2 separate regions of the Homo sapiens genome follow, and region 2 is linked to region 1. A link means that fine-mapping ties the variant in region 1 to the expression of a gene that starts in the linked region. Tissue or cell type: thyroid. Region 1 holds a variant in brackets; the other region holds the start of a gene. All regions are shown on one strand. Distances are between the middles of the regions.

Evidence for each region. PIP is the estimated chance that this variant, and not a neighbour inherited with it, causes the effect.
Region 2: it holds the start of MROH2A, and the variant in region 1 is fine-mapped to the expression of MROH2A in thyroid (GTEx, PIP above 0.99).

Annotation. Positions count from the first base shown.
Region 1 is chr2:233,798,318-233,801,006 of GRCh38, reverse strand. MROH2A (maestro heat like repeat family member 2A) reads right to left here. Exons shown (of 42, transcript NM_001394639.1): 12 at 2,157-2,233; 13 at 1,108-1,227; 14 at 692-802. Among named protein-coding and RNA genes, the nearest start is that of MROH2A, 21 kb to the right of the region's middle. The variant C/T (reference allele first, on the strand shown) is at 1,024.
Region 2 is chr2:233,777,000-233,779,688 of GRCh38, reverse strand. It overlaps MROH2A (maestro heat like repeat family member 2A), which reads right to left and starts at 1,359. Exons shown (of 42, transcript NM_001394639.1): 1 at 1,208-1,359; 2 at 237-344; 3 at 1-18. The coding sequence starts at 330.

The sequences.
Region 1 (2,689 bases):
TATGTGGGTGCCACATGGACTGTAGCTATGATGATGATGATGATTATTATTATTTCTGCAATTAAAAAAAGCTGTCGCTGGACAGGGATCATCTAGCCTGCAGCCTCAGTGAGTAATCATTCCCTCCTTGATGTTCTCATGGTACATTTTTCCTCTTATTGCTACGTCACATTTTGTTGCAATTAAAAGTTGACACATTTGTTTCTCCCATAGTCTGTGAACTCCTTCCACTCCTTCCCGTCATACTGAGTCCTCCTAGTGCACACTCCTCTGTCCTGTCTTTCACAGAGTTAGAACTCAATGAATGTTTACAAAATTAAACCATGAAAATCATTGGTCTACACACAGACACACACACACACACACACACACACATACACACACACACGGGCCTTAAAGTAATGGACACATTTCAGGTACTTGCTCAAATGATACAGACTGATACTGCCAGCCATGCTGAGGTCGTGCACTGCCCAGCCTCTAGGGGTACAGAGATGAAGAGTAAGTTCTCATCAAGGACCTGGCTTTGGAACTGGGTTTTGAGTAATTCCAGGCAACTGGAAGAGGAAGGCCCCTCAACACTCCAGACAGCAGGAACGGAAGAAGCAAAGATGTGGAATTCTGGGCATGTGTGGTTCACCCCCAGCCTGGCGTGGTGACCCACTGTGCGGGTGGGGCAGGGCCCACTCACGGTGGTCATCCCACTGACAGAAGAGGTAATGATCTTCACAGTGTCCATGGTGACTTTGTGGACCATCCTCTCCTCCAAGTCCCTCTGATAAAACTTCTCCCGGCGATTTGTCTGGAAGAAAGAACCAAGGGATTCCCACCTGTGGCCTAGCAGAGGTTTGTCGTGGTCTCAGGTGTGGTCTCCTCACTCCCCAGGGGCTCCATGCCCAGATACTGAGTCTACAGAATGCTCAGAGCTGTGCATATATCTAGGACCCCACACATTGTCACCTGCAGGTTCACTGTGTCTATGAACTCCTGTCATGAATGGATACGCAGGTTTGAACACAGGTA[C/T]GCTGAGTGGCATTCTCCCCTCAGCACTGTGGAAACCATTTCCAAGTCCAGCTGCTCTGCGGTCTGCGTATCAGGGCCACTCACCAGTTTGTAGGTGGATAAGGTCAGCTGCACAGACAGGTACTTCAGGCCCCAGCCTTTGATTCTCTCCTGGTAGCCACAGAGAGCCAACTGCCCAATGATGTGGAGAATAGCCATCCTCACCTGAGGGGACAGGACCGTGGACATGCTGGGGGTTGGGGTGGGCTCCAAGGCACCCAATCCTGTGACATAGAGAGCTAGGAATTGGGGGTGCTCTGGGCTAGAAGGGGCCTCAGGGACTACCTGATTACTGCCCACTCTGTCCACCTCCCCCTGCCTCATCCAGGGGTCCCACTCTGCAGCATGCCCACCTGGGAGCCTAATTGAGCCTTGGAGAGACACAAAGCTCCCTCCCTCCCTTCCAACCTCGGCTGCTCCATTCTAGCAGCCCTTGCCGTGGGGAGCCCATCTGTTATCCTGGACCCCCTGGGGCTTGCTCCATTGATGAGAATCACTATGTGAAGGAGATGCAGAACGAGCCTCTTCTCGCTTCCCTCCACAGCCTCCAGGGACTGAAGACAGCTCTGCCTAAATCTCTAGCCCCCATTCTCCTCCATTCCCTCTCTGATGTTCCTCAAAACTGCTGTGCAGACCCCTCACTATGCCGGACCTCCCTTCCCCAGCCCATGGCCAGAACCAAGCTCCACTCCAAGGTGGATGTGGCTGCCATGGAGCCTGGGACTGTGGTTTTCAGCCTTTTGAGGATGGGTAGAGGAGTACCCCTTAGTTGCTTTTTTCACATGCGATAAAGACCTCACAAAACCCTTGACAGCCAAGTGACTCTAGCTGCAGCTGGATTTACTCGGCCTCTGTTGGGTCCAAGGTGGTGCCTGAGACACACCACTCAAAAACTCTAGATCCATGGAGAGAATGAGGTCTCGAGAGTGGAACCTCAGCTTTCACTGGCCTCACCATTCTGCAGCCCCAGTCGAGACCCGATGGAAAGCCGGGTTTTCCATCAAAAGCCTCTGCCTCCCAGAGCCCAGACTTCCCTTTGCCTCCCTGGCAGGGTCCCCTGAGTGCCCCCCATTTCCAGGTCTCTGCCCTGTTACCTTGGACCGGGTATCAGAGATGGTGTTCTTGACTACCCGGATAGCCAGGTAGATGGCCCTGATACTCATCCTGGGCTCTGAAAGAGGAAAACTGGGTGGGCTGGAGGGCTGTGGCTCAGGGAGAGGTCAGGTGGCTCGTCCCACATCAGGGCCTCACGTTCTGTCTCCTCCCACATTCTCCAAGCTCAGGGGCACTTTCTTAGGAGCCTCCCTGGCCATGCTCTCCCTGGCCATCTCCCTCCCCTCTGTTGTTTCCACGCCTCGTTCCCTTGGCCACTGCTTTGTGTGTATCTCATTTGAACCCAGGTGAACTCGCCTTGAGGGCAAGATCTCTGCCTACGAGCTCTTTAGTGTCCTGCAGCTGGGCACAGAGCACTGGGCATGAAGTGGGCATGCAGTGGGCACACAGAGGTTGCAAAGCACCACCGTGAAGAGCATGGGTCCTGACACCAGGCCTTCCCTGGGTTCAAATCCTGGCTCCACCACATCCCAGCTGTGGGACGTAAAGTGAATTACGTAGCCCCTCTGCGCCT
Region 2 (2,689 bases), 21 kb after region 1:
CGACTTGTTGAAAGGTACCTATGAAAACAAACGCCACCCAGGTGCAGTGTGGAAATGACCATGACAGGAGGTGCCCTTGTGTCCCTGGCCTTGCCTCCACCTGCGCAGCTCCAGCTTCATGTGTGGTATGATGTCCACTGTGCAGATGGAGAAAGGGAGACCTAGGCTGGGGCTGCAGTCAAAGAGTTAGTGTCTGAGATGGGGCAGGAAAGCAGAAATGTGGATGACATTCTTACCACTGTCATGTAATTCAAGAGGCCCCAGGTCGTCTCTTTCCTCTGACACCTCCTCACTTGAGGCTACTGCTGCTTCTGTAATGGCTTCAGTCATCTCTTCCTCAAGCTCTTTTGAGATCAACAGAATTTGTAAAATACGGGGTGTGACACACACCTTAAGATGACCCCAACGACCCACACCCTTCCATAAAGCCATCCCCTTGAGGGTGTGTGGGTGGAACCTGTGACTTCCTTCTAATCAACAGAATATGGCAAAGGTGATGGGTGACCCTCTCTCGAGTGGATTACATCATATGGCAAAGATGGTGGGATGTCATTCCCATGATCACACTATGCCACATGAGATTCCCTCTTATCAGATTGAACAGAAACATTCTACTGGCCTTGAAAAGTAAACAGCCATGATGCAAACTGCCTGTGGTGAGGGCCACGTAGCAAGGAACTGAGGGCCTCAGTCCTACAACCATAAGAAACTGAATTCTCCAATAAGCACATGAGCTTGGAAGAGGAAGCTGAACTCCAGAAAGGACTGCAGTCTCTGAGACCCTAAACAAAGGACCAAGGAAAGCCATGCCTAGACTCCTGGCCAGTGGAACCGTGAGATAATCAATGGATGTTCTTTTAAGCCACTGAGTTTATGATAATTTGTTACACAGCAATAGATAATATCCTTAGTTTAATAGAGCCCTCTCGCCCTCTCTTCTACACACTGATAATTAATGGCTAATGAGAAATTCATATCAGTATCTCTCATAACTCCTTTAAGGGGTTCTCTCAACATCCACAGCTTCTTAAAAATTGAGAAACACCAACATAGATGTCGAGATGGTGGAAGAAAGGCTCTCAGATCCTTTCTCCTCCTGTCCCAAGTTCCTTGATCCTCAAAGATCCATCCCATGGCCCTTTACTATCCCATACTCTCTTTTCCTTTAAAGGATTTTAAAGAGCTACTCTGGGACCTAAATACTGACCTTTCCTTAGGGTCTTCTTCTGGATTAAACAGATATTAACCACAAGAAAAAGCTCTGCTCTTGGCCCAATACACATCAATGGAAATGCAAATGGAAGAATTGGTTATCAAAGTGAGACAGCTGGGCTCTTCAGTCATATTTCTTATAGGAATGGGTCTCCTGGAAGGGTGGGAGGGTTTCACTAGAACTATCACCGTTAGATCCCAGACCCTCGGAACTTTGAGATCCAACTGCCTCCCTGAGTCTCTATCAACCCAGGTCTTTGAAGAGTGCACAGGGCTCTGGGGTGAAAACTCCACATCATGTTGTCATTCAACATTTCTGTTATTCACATGTGTGTGCTGAAGTACAGGGGCCTGTTTGGGAAAGGGAGATGGTAGAAGTGGGGATGGCTTACAACCAAGTCCCAGGGGAACACAGTCATGTGAGCCCTGGGTGGGGAGGTGTGGTCAGGACAGTTGGAGAGGAGAGGAGGGGCAGACTGAGAGGCCCTGGGGAGAGCACTCCTCCTTCCCGGGGACTGGATGACTTGCAGGATAAGAAATTGGATTTCCACTAGCACAATACTTACAAGATAAAGAACATCAAAGACAGGTAGGAGAGGAGGCACCCTGATTTCCTAAACCAAAAGTGGAGCCCAAAGGATTTCCCTGTCATTTATAGCTAGGAGAGATGATCCAGATCATAGGTACAACAATGAAATATTGGCCTTTGGGAAATCTTTCTATGCACTGCAAGACAACAGGAACAAAACTCAGAGACATCTAGGGCCAAGGTTGCTTAAGTGGAATTTCCACTCCAAGTTTGCCCATCCAGCCAAATGGGAGTTCCTCAGCCTGTGCTTGGACACCTCCAATACGAGGGAGCTCATTACTCTCAGGACCAGCCTCTTTCTACTTCATGGAATTCAGATGGTTAGAAAATGAGCTTTCTTATCATGCCCAACATTTCTTCCTCATAAAATTCCTGCGTTATTCCTTGTTCTGCACTTGGAGATACATTGATCAACATGAAATAGACACAAGCAGCTATCCCATGCCCCTTCTTTCACAGGACTGCCCCTCTGCACTACCTCCTCCCACTCCCCACTGAGCCTTCTTTTCCGTTTGAAAGATCACTGAGGTGATGTGGTTGCCAAGTCCATTCCACAGGCCCAGACTGCACGCCTACTGTGTGCAGCTAAGCATGGCTTTCCATGCTGCAGTGGATATAGGGTAGGTGGAACACATCTCTGTCCTCTGAAGGTCTTCAGACTCAACACATGAAAAGTGATACATTTAGAGCCAGAAGTGAATGTGTCAGCAATTGCTGTGTAACAAACCACCTCAAAACTTAATGACTGAAAACAACCGATTATTATAGTTCACAAGTGTATGAGTCACCTGCGTGGGTCTGTGGATCTGTGCTCTGTCCAGCCAAGCACAACTAGAGTCTCACCCATGTATCTCAGACAGCTAGAGGGCTGGCCATTGGCTCGCTATT